Linked DNA regions of Homo sapiens: region 2 is linked to region 1. The links come from fine-mapping of genetic effects on gene expression. A gene starts in region 1. The other region holds a variant in brackets. All regions are shown on one strand. Distances are from middle to middle. Region 1 holds the start of HMOX2 (heme oxygenase 2). Region 2 overlaps HMOX2 (heme oxygenase 2).

Region 1 (5,372 bases):
AGATCTGGGGGTAATGGGAGGCGTGGAGTTGGGGGTGGGGCCGGGGTTCCCGCCAGGAGCGACAAAGGACACCCCCATTGTCTATGCATCGAGTATGTGTCGAAGGGGGCGGCTGGGCCCGGAGCGGCAAGACGCCTGTCCCGAGATATCGGGGTCCCGCGACCCACCTCGTGTCCCTTGGGCCCGATCCCCTCCTCCTTCCCGCCTCCCCCGGTTCCAGTCACCCGCCCCCCGGCCCGGGTCCCACCGGCTGGAGTGACCTCCTCGCCGCGGCCTGGGCGGGACAAGTTCCAGGAGCCCGGGACCCCGATTCTGCGGCCGAGTCCACTGCAGAGGCGGGGATGGAGCTGCGCGCTAGGCGCCAACTCCCTCCCCGCAGCTCCGGCCCCACCTGGCAGAGCGCCGCTCACGGAAGCCCAGCGTCGGAGGACCCCTGGCTGCAGCCGCCAATCCCGACGTGTCGGCCGAAACCCCTCCTCCGGCGCAGTTGGCTCCTCCTGGATCCCGCGGGACTCGGCGTCGTTTCCGGGTTTGCCCGCCCCAGGCACGTGCACAGTGAGTTTGTGTAAATCCAGTTAGACCAAAATGAGCGAGGTGGAGAGCCTCTTAACCGGATGCTACGGGTGATGACTGGGAGGAGGAGAAAAATTACCTCTTTATCTTGCATGAACATCTTAATTTTCAGGTATTGGGCGTCAGGCAAAGATAATTAAAGCTATGTCCATGAGTCTTATCCCTTGAGGCCTTGTCCGCTTGATATTTTCTTTGCCTAACTCACTTTTAAAATTTTATTATTTTTATTTTTTTGAGACAGTGTCTTGGTCCGTCGCCCAGGCTGGTGTGCAGTGGCGCGATCTCGGCTTACTGCAACCTCCGCCCCCCGGGTTCAAGAGATTCTCCTGCCTCAGCCTCCCGAGTAGCTGGGATTACAAGCATGTGCCACCAAGCCCGGCTAATTTTTGTATTTTTTAGTAGAGACGGGGTTTCACCAGGTTGACCAGGCAGGTCTCGAACTCCTGACTTAAAGTGATCCACCCACCTCAGCCTCCCAAAGTGCTGGGAGTACAGGTGGGAGCCACCGTGCCCAGCCCTAACTCACTTCTGAAGTTGCTGCTACTTGCACTGATTTCAGTTTTTTTTTGTTTTTGTTTTTTGTTTTCAAGGTGGAGTCTTGCTCTGTGGCCCAGGCTGGAGTGCAGTGGTGGTGCGATCTTGGCTCACTGCAACTTCCGCCTCTTGGGTTCAAGTGATTCTCCTGCCTCAGTTTCCTGAGTAGCTGGGATTACAGGCAGGAGCCACCATGCCCGGCTAAAATTTTTTTGTATTTTTGGTAGAGACGGGGTTTCAACATGCTGGCCAGGCTGGTCTCGAACTGCTGACCTCAAGTGATCTTCCCGCCTCAGGCTCCCAAAGTGCTGGGATTACAGACATGAGCCACCACACCCGGCCCACGATTTCAGTAATTTCTTTGTGTTCAGTAAAACTAAAAAATGACTCTGGGCTGGGTGCGGTGGCCTGTAATTGCAGTGATTTGGGAGGCCGAGGCGGGTGGATCACCTGAGCTCAGGAGTTCGAGACCAGCCTGGCCAACATGGTGAAACCCCCGTCTCTACTAAAAATACAAAAATTAGCCGGGCGTGGTGGCAGGCGCTTGTAATCCCAGCTATTCGGGAGGTTAAGGCAGGAGAATCGCTTGAACCCGGGAGAAGGGGGTTGCAGTGAGCCGAGATCACGTCATTGCACTCCAGCCTGGGCGACGAGCAAAACTCGGTCTCAAAAAAAGAAAAATCATTCTGTCATTCTGGCCGCTGTTTGAAGAATGCGAATAATGCAACAGGGAGATCAGATACAAGACTGGTAACCGAGGTGTCAGAGTTGAGACTCAGTTTCGCAGATTGCATTGGCAAGTGACCAAGTGGGTGGTGCCACGGTTGACAACCCTATTTCTTACATCACTGAGTGGATGTACAAGGATTAAACCACACTGGGGAAGAAAAGTGCTCAACCCTGAGGCACCCTCACACACCTCGGCTCTTGTGAACACTAGTGTTCCTGCCGAAGCACGCCTACTTACCCCGCTGAGCAGAGCCTGAGCCTGCAACCTCCAGAGACCTGGGGAAAGCCACATACTCCGCTTCCCGCCCCCGGCAAGGGCGTGTCAGCTACAAGGGGCGTGTCATCTCTAGGCCCCGCCCCGCGCTGCGTGCCCACGTTGCGCCGGCCTCGCGCCAGTCCGCTGGGCTGCAGGGACTGCGGCGCCTGAGGGAGTCGCTGACGGGCACGCTGACTGGAGGCTGGCGGACAGGCGACAGCGACCTGCGGCAGGTGAGCTGTCCGCGCCCTCCCGGGGCCTTCCTTCCGCCCGGCTTCTCGGACCGCGCTGCGTCCTTCGCGGGCCCTGCCTCGGTCCAGGCCTTCGGACCTGGGCTTGGCCGGGCCACAGCCCTTTGGGTCCCCTGCGCCGGTCTGAGGGGAGACCCGGCCGGGGGCGGCCGGAAGCTGGGTGAGGCCGGGCAGAAGGACGAAGAAGGGCGTGGAGGGGCTGTCAGGGGAGGGCGAAACCGCGGACGCCGCTCTCCAGAAGTCGTCTCCCCGGGGGCGCGGGGAGGCCTGAATGGCTCTCTTTGGCGTCCCCGTTGGGCCCACCCTCTCCCAGCGTCACGGCTATGCTGGGCGAGGTGACCCCCGGGGTCGTAGCTGGGGGCGTCGGCGGTGCAGACAGGGGATGCCGGCAGAGATTGGAGCCCGGCTTGGCTGTTTCCCGGGCTGTTGGCATTGACCGGGGCTCTGCCCTTCCTCTAATGCCCTTATCTCTATAGGAAGTGCCCCTTGAGTGGGTGTCGTGACTTCACGAGTGAACCCTGGTACGCCCTGGAGCAGAGTCGGACTGGGAGGGATCAAGTGTGGGGGCAGCCGGTTAGTCCGGACGCGGGTTTACCTATTACTTTCTGAGCGCAGTGCTCTGGGTGGATTAATTGCCCTGCAAAAGCTGCCGGGACCTCCTTGCAGTCTTTGCACGAGGCCTGCCTGTGTCATGCCATTTAAATCGCGTCTGGGCCGGGTCGGTGGCTCACGCCTGTAATTCCAGCACTTTGGGAGGCCAGGGCGGGCGGATTGCTTGAGGTCAGGAGTCCGAGACCAGCCTGGCCAACATAGTGAAACCCCGTCTCTACTAAAAATACAAAAATCAGCCGGGCATGGTAACGTGAGCCTGTAGCTCCAGCTACTTAGGAGGCTGAGGCAGGAGAATCGCTTGAACCCGGGAGGCAGAGGTTGCAGTGAGCCGAGATCACGCCATTGCACTCCAGCCTGGGCGACAGAGCAAGACTCCATCTAAAAAAAAAAAAAAAAAAAAAAAAAATCGCTTCTGATGAGCCGGTTGTCGTGGCCTGTGGCTGTCCATCCTTACGTACTGTGTTTTGTTGATGGCGCTACAAACCAGACAAGGTGGAGTGTGATTGAAGAAAGAAACGCTGGCCGGTGCAGTGGCTCACTCCTGTAATCCCAGCACTTTGGGAGGCCGAGGCAGGCGGATCACCTGAGGTCAGGAGTTCGAGATCAGCCTGGCCAACATGGTGAAACCCCGTCTCTACTAAAAATACAAAAAAGTTAAACGGGCGGGGTGGCGCGTGTCTGTAATCCCAGCTACTGGGGAGTTTGAGGTTGGAGGATCACTTGAGCCCACGAAGTGGAGATTGCAGTGAGCTGAGATCGCATCACTGCACTCCAGCCTGGGTGACAGAGTGAGACCCTGTCTCAAAAAAGAAAAAAATAAATTATCACAAGACAAAATTTGTGCTTATCAGGAGTTCACAGTTAAGACATATATAAGCTTACTTGGTGAAATTAGAAAAAGTTATCAGATAAAACATTCAGGTTTAAACACTGGTGAGGGTGTGGGAATTTGTGGAGCCTTGGAAACACACTCATTGAATGACCTCATCTACCTGGGGATGTGAAGAGGGAAATCCTGTGATTCCTCCATTGTCTGACTTGATTTCCTTTTTTCCTTGGCTGTGGCAACATGTTGAAGTGCTGTGAGTCACCAAAAGGGGGAACGTGAGCAACTCTAGAAATGCCAGTGCCAGTGAGTTACAGACAATAAAGCATTGACCGCCTTTAGCTCACCCCTCATCAAGTCTGTTGAAAACTTGTAAAATTGGACAGCTAGAGCTACCTTGATTTTTTGGTTTCCTTTTAACAGCTGACTCTCTTCACAGGACAGTTGGGCTCTACATCAGGATTGCACCCAAAACTGGAATATCACTCCTCCAGGAGGAAGATATATTTGAAAATTAGAATTGTGGGCCCGGTGCAGTGGCTCATGCTTGTGATCCCAGCACTTTGGGAGGCCGAGATGGGCGGATCACCTGAGGTCGGGAGATAGAGACCAGCCTGACCAACATGGAAAAACCCCATCTCTACTAAGAAAAAAATAATAATAATACAAAAATTAGCTGGGCATGGTGGTGTGTGCCTGTAATCCGAGCTACTTGGGAGGCCGAGGCAGGAGAATCACTTGAACCTGGGAGGCAGAGGTTGCGATGAGCCAAGATTGTGCCACTGCATTCCAGCCTGGGCAACAGGAGCAAAACTGCATCTCAAAAAAAAAAAAAAGAAAGAAAGAAAATTAGAATTGTGTATTTCACTGTAAAATTTGAAATTCAGCTTTAACTCCTTGGAAAGGAAAGAGATGAAAAACTTGACCTAGACTGGGTGCGGTGGCTCACGCCTGTAATCCCAGCACTTTGGGAGACCAAGGCGGGTGGATCACCTGAGGTCAGGAGTTCGAGACCAGCCTGGCTAACATTGTGAAACCCCGTCTCTACTAAAAATACAAAAATTAGCCTTGCAAAAAGTAGCCTGTAATCCCAGCTACTCGGGAGGCTGAGCAAGGAGAATTGCTTGAACCTGGGAGGCAGAGGTTTCAGTGAGCCAAGATCATGCCATTGCACTCCAGCCTGGGCGACAAGAGCAAAACTTCATCTCAAAGAAAAAAAAATTCTATCAGAGTGAACAATAAGTAGGATGCTAGCACATACCTGTAATCTCAGCTACTTGGGAGGCTGAGGCAGGAAGTTAATACTTGATGAGCCTAAGTTTTTGGTGTCTTTGGATGCTGCTTGTCGATCTAAGGGGTTTCCAAACGCTTCTTTTTTGGTAAAATTGGGATTATGACTAGGAATCTGTTTTTTGGAGTTTCCCAGGTGATCCTTGTTTGGGGTCCTTGTCTAAGGCACAGGCTGGAAAGAGGAGGGAGTGGACTGGCAGGGAAGATAGAGCAGTAAGCGAATAGAATACCTGGGGAAAGGGACGCCAGAAGAGTGATTGTTGTCTGGTGAACTGTGCTGTCAGTGTGTATGTCAGAAGCC
Region 2 (5,372 bases), 27 kb after region 1:
TGAAGTGTATTTCCCAGAGTGGAATATTTTAGGATCTTTTTTTCTCTTTTGTGGGGGTGGGGAACATGTAGCTTCTTGTGGATATTAGACATTGAAGTCTAAAAAGGTTCTATATTTATGATTTGGCCCTCAATTTTCTAGAGATTCCAATGGTTCCTGCAAAGAAAAGAGCATTCAAGTATAGAAACCAGCCAGACTAAGTCTGGACATGTAGCTTTTCAGAAAGTGAAAAAAAATTATGTTTCTGCAGTTGCAAGGTGGCCTCTGAATGCCACACTGTGTGGCCACTCCCTTGGACAGTGGCTAGGCCACAGGGTCGCCTCCCCTGGCCCCAGTCTGTGGGTTGAATATGCTAACCGAGCCTTCCCAGGAGCCTCCTCTGCCCCCAGCCCCCAGGTCTGTACAGATGGTAGTTGGTACTTTCAGCCCGCCTTGAGAACTCAGTATTCTTCCTGTTAGCTTTCCTTCAAAGTAAAATCGGTAGAACCTATTTTGAGTGTAGAAAATTTGAAGTCGTGGACAGCAGATTACAAAAAATTGCCCACCACCATGCCTGGCTCATTTTTGTATTTCTAGTAGAGATGGGCTTTCACCATGTTGGCCAGGCTGGTCTCGAACTGCTGACCTCAGGTGATCTGCCCACCTCGGCCTCCCTAAATGCTGGGATTATAGGTGCGAACCACTGTGCCTGGCTCCTTTTTGTATTTTTCGGAGAAGCACAAGGACTTGTTGTTTAATTAAGCAAGACTATACTCTCCCAGAGCATGCAGTTATTATTGAGTAAAACACAGTTAATGAGATTTAATCACGTTCCCTATCACTGTTGTGCAGCATGATAAGTAGGTGCAAATGGCAAGAAGCACGCTGAAGTTACTGCAGTTGGTAACCTGGGCCATGGATGGCACTTGTCTTTGCCTCATTTTGCCTGTAAGAAGCATGGGGCCTGTGGTCCTGGGGTACCTGGACCCTCAGCCTGGTGTGTGTGTGCCCTCAGCCTGGTCCTTTACTTCCATCACCCATCTAGAGGCTCCAGGACCCTTTACTGCACCCCTCCCTCCTCTAGATAGCTCAGTGTTTTCATCCCAGCACCTTTTTCTCTGCTGCCTGAGAACTGAGCAGCCAGAGACAAATTTTGGCTCTCAGGGTCCTCAAGGGTGTACAGCAAAGCTGTTCTTATTATTTAAAGTATTTTATTTATTTATTTTTGAGACAGAGTCTTACTTTGTCGGCCAGGCTGGAGTGCAGTGGCATGATCTCGACTCACTGCAACCTCTGTCTCCCAGGCTCAAGAAATCCTCCTACATCAGCCTCCCAAGTAGCTGGGATTACAGGCTGGAGTGCAGTGGCTCCATCTCGGCTCACTGCAACCTCCGCCTCCCAGGTTCAAGCGATTCTCCTGCCTCAGCCTCCTGAGTAGCTGGGATTACAGGTGTGTGCCACCATGCCTGGCTAATTTTTGTATTTTTAGTAGAGACAGGGTTTTACCATGTTGGCCAGGCCGGTCTCGGACTCCTGACCTCCTGATCTGCCCACCTCGGCCTCCCAAAGTGTTGGGATTACAGGCGTGAGCCACCGCGCCCGGCTAGCAAAGCTGTACTTTTACCAAAAAAAAAAAAGAAAACATTTATAAATCAAGGTCTGAAGGCCCATGTGAGGCTTATTCTACAGCTTGCAATGCCTGTTTTTGCCCCTTGGTAAGTGGACGCACAGCTGGGCAGCCTTATGCTATCTCTGTGAACTACCCATTTCTGGCTTTGTTCATAATATTCCCTTGATCTGGAGGCCCTCCCCCAGCCCTGCCCCAAATCCTGTCTGTGTTGAGGGTCCTGCCCCAGGAAGCCCTCTGCATACTCTTCCCTGCATGTAATACCTGCCTGCTTTCACATTCTTCTAGACTGTGCTGTGCATCGTACAGTTCATCAGCATTATTGCAGAGTAGAGTGTCTCTGATTTGGAGTCAAGAGAAGGTTCCATTTTTCTGTACATCCCGATGTTTATTTTCTGAGTGTTCTCAGACATCACTAAGCCTCAGTCAAAATAAAGTATGATCATGATGTAACATTCATTGAGTGCTTATCACATGGTAGGCATTGTGCTATATGAGTTATTGCTTGACTTCCTAAAATAATCCCAGTAGAGATGCTAAATCTAAAGGTGAGAGAGATGGTTCAAAAAGACCTCAGTGAGCAAACCATGTACTATAATATCCTAAAAGATAACAAAAATGTAACTAGGTATCTAGAGAAAACTCAGGAAGGATATGTGCCTTGGGCCTTTTAAGGACCATTTCTTAACACTTCTGTGTTCTTCTTGACACCTGTTTCTGGGTAGAGCACATAGAAAATGCTCAGTAAATAAGTTCTTTTTCCTTGGCCCAGTTTGGCCTGATTTGGCCCCAGTTCTGTCTTTGTGAGTTACTTTATTAGTTGTCGGTGCTACTGTGCTGCTATTCATGTGGAAGATTCCCCAAATGGGCTGCGCCTTACATTGCCTGAGCAGAAGCCCCGAGGGATGGAGGATGAGCTTGCCTTGTTATGGGACTGTGTTTCCCTGGCTGACAAAGGCTCAGCATTTGCAGCAGGCAATGGGAATTGATTGGCCAACTTAATATTTCCTTCAGCCTAGCAAAGTCCTGAGTAGGCTAGGGACAGTCTGCTTTTTTGGTAACTCCTGTAGGCTGCCTTCTGCACAAGGCACCCAGCCTCTCACAGGTAGGATGAACTGGCCTCAGCACGCTTGCAGAGGGGTGGAACTGTGCGTTGCTTGCCAAGCTTTTTGTTTCCCTAAGGTTTTTGAGGTTTTCTTTGTTTTTGGTAACTTTCAATTTTTTTTTTTTTTTTTTTTTTTTGGACAGAGTTTCACTCTTATTGCCCAGGCTGGAGTGCAGTGGCGCGATCTTGGCTCACTGCAACTTCTGCTTCGTAGGTTCAAGTGATTCTCCTGCCTCAGCCTCCTGAGTAGCTGGGATTACAGGCACGCGCCACCACATCCGGCTAATTTTGCATTTTTAGTAGAAACAGGGTTTCTCCATGTTGGTCAGGCTGGTCTTAAACTCCTAACCTCA[G/A]GTGATCCACCCACCTTGGCCTCCCAAAGTGGTGGGATTACAGGCATGAGCCACCGTGTCTGGCCTAACTTTTAATTTTGATACGGTCTTTTTTTTTTTTTTTTTTTTTTTTTTAAGACAGTTTCGCTCTTGTTGCCCAGGCTGGAGTGCAACGGCGTGATCTCGGCTCACTGCAACCTCTGCCTCCTGGGCTCAAGAGATTCTCCTGCCTGAGCCTCCCGAGTAGCTGGGATTACAAGTGTGCACCACCATGCCCGGCTATTTTTTGTATTTTTAGTAGAGACAGGGTTTCACCATGTTAACCAGGCTAGTCTCAAACTCCAGTCTGCCTCGGCCTCCCAAAGTGCTGGGATTACAGGCATGAGCCACTGTGCCCTGCCTTGATACAGTTTTAAGCATACAGAAAAATGGTAAGAATAGTACAAAGAACTCTCATACCTCTTCCCCAGATTCACTGCTAGGATTTTGCCTTGTTTGCTTTTCTGACTTGCCAGTGTCCCCCACCCTGCAGCATATGCACATGCACACACACTGTCTTCTGAACCATCTGACAGGGAGTTGCAGGCAGTGTACCTTTACTTCTGAATACCCCAGTGTGTATTTCTTAGGAACAAAGACATTCTCTTATATAATCGCAGTACAATTATTTTTAAAAACCAGCAAGCTTAATGTCAATACAATGCTATTACCTAATACATTGTTCATATTCAGATTTTTTCCATATTCCACTATGGTCCCAGTAATGGCAGAGCTTTATTTTAAAGAAAACAATCCTGGGGTGTGTGGGTGTCACCTTGGTTACATTCGCTCTGAGGAAAGCAGAACCGACAGGTATTTGGGGAAGTGACTGCCGTGGGTGCCACATCACCAGCTCCTTGTGTCTCTGCAGGACCAGAGGAGCGAGAGCAGCAAGAACCACACCCAGCAGCAATGTCAGCGGAAGTGGAAACCTCAGAGGGGGTAGACGAGTCAGAAAAAAAGAACTCTGGGGCCCTAGAAAAGGAGAACCAAATGAGGTGAGCGATGGGGGCTGGCTGCACTGAATCAGGTGGGCCCAGCACCTGTCGTGCTCAGCACACCTGGTTTTGTCTGTTGGCAGCACTGGGGAGTGGCCATGGGCCATGAGCTCTGGACCCCTGGGTGCCTGCTTGGCCCTGCAGGGACCGCATACAGCTTCGGCTGCTTAGAACTCTCCCCACTGGTCCATTGTCTCATCCAAGGAGGCAGGGCAGGTGCTCCTGGGAGTGCTGATAGGATTTGATGGTAGTTATCCTTTTTTCTTTTTAAAAACTTGTGCGTTTCCTCATCTGGGCTGAGAAAGGGTAAACGCAGGCAAAGCTGGCTCTGTTCAGTCTTTTACCACATAAAAGACTGCAGGGCAGCCTTTCCTTACTCTGTATAGGGACAGCTCATGCTAAACCTGAGCTTCCAGGCCCTGTTCTGCATCATTAGCCTCTCATAGCCCTGTCATTGGCCAAGTTTTTTTTTTATCCCTTGAAATAATTGCTAATAATAAATTGATTCTCAGCACATGGATGATAACGAGCTAATCTCCTAAAGAAGACAGCAGAAGCCAGACCATGATAAGGCCAAATTTTTCTCACTCTTGTAGATGGATTGTGTGGACACATGTAAGCCCCTGCCCAAGTACCACCATCTTTAGGATCACATGTTTTCTACCTTGTCCATCCATCCACACACCTTTACAACTGTGTAATTTCGTTAAGCAGCACAAACCCAGCGTCCTGGCCCTAGCCTCTCGGTTGTCTCCTTTGCATCCTTCCGTGCTTGGTCCTAGTCACATATAGTCTCAAAGAAGCTGTGGGTCCAAGGTGGGAGGAAGGCAGTAGGGCCATCTGAGGAGACCCATGGTCACAGCCTTACTGAGGTGTGTGAATTCCAGAAGACACGTTCCAAGGCAGGCTGTTCTTAGAGAAGCCAGCAAATACTGAAGGGAATACAGATGTGTGTCTCTTCGACCACTAGGTGGCCACAGAAGCAAAGCATTGCTCATTTGGGTGGTTCCCAACACAGACACATGGACGTGGGTACTACTCTCAAGGAGCAGGCCACAGTTATCCCTTGTGTCCTGAGTCCTTGGAGCAGAATGTCATGTCTGCTTGTCCTGTGTTCCCTGACAAGTTGCTGCTATTTGTGTTGGAGTGAAGTGTCTGAGAAGCCCCAGCCTCCAGTACAACAGGTGGTCACCTTGGGGTGTGGACTCAATCTTCTCTCTATGGTCCTTTCTGGAAAGCTGGGAAGGGCTAATTGACACACAAACACCTCCCATCTCTCCACAGAATGGCTG

Evidence for each region. PIP is the estimated chance that this variant, and not a neighbour inherited with it, causes the effect.
Region 2: its variant is fine-mapped to the expression of HMOX2 in whole blood (TOPMed, PIP above 0.99).

What each region holds. Positions count from the first base shown.
Region 1 is chr16:4,474,163-4,479,534 of GRCh38, forward strand. It overlaps HMOX2 (heme oxygenase 2), which reads left to right and starts at 2,236. Exons shown (of 6, transcript NM_002134.4): 1 at 2,236-2,325. It overlaps NMRAL1 (NmrA like redox sensor 1), which reads right to left and starts at 463. Exons shown (of 6, transcript NM_020677.6): 1 at 392-463; 2 at 1-4. LOC124903636 (a long non-coding RNA gene) reads right to left here. Exons shown (of 3, transcript XR_007064964.1): 3 at 5,102-5,372. RefSeq lists an enhancer at 2,032-2,533.
Region 2 is chr16:4,501,531-4,506,902 of GRCh38, forward strand. It overlaps HMOX2 (heme oxygenase 2), which reads left to right. Exons shown (of 6, transcript NM_002134.4): 2 at 3,954-4,080; 3 at 5,365-5,372. The coding sequence starts at 3,995. Among named protein-coding and RNA genes, the nearest start is that of HMOX2, 28 kb to the left of the region's middle. The variant G/A (reference allele first, on the strand shown) is at 3,065.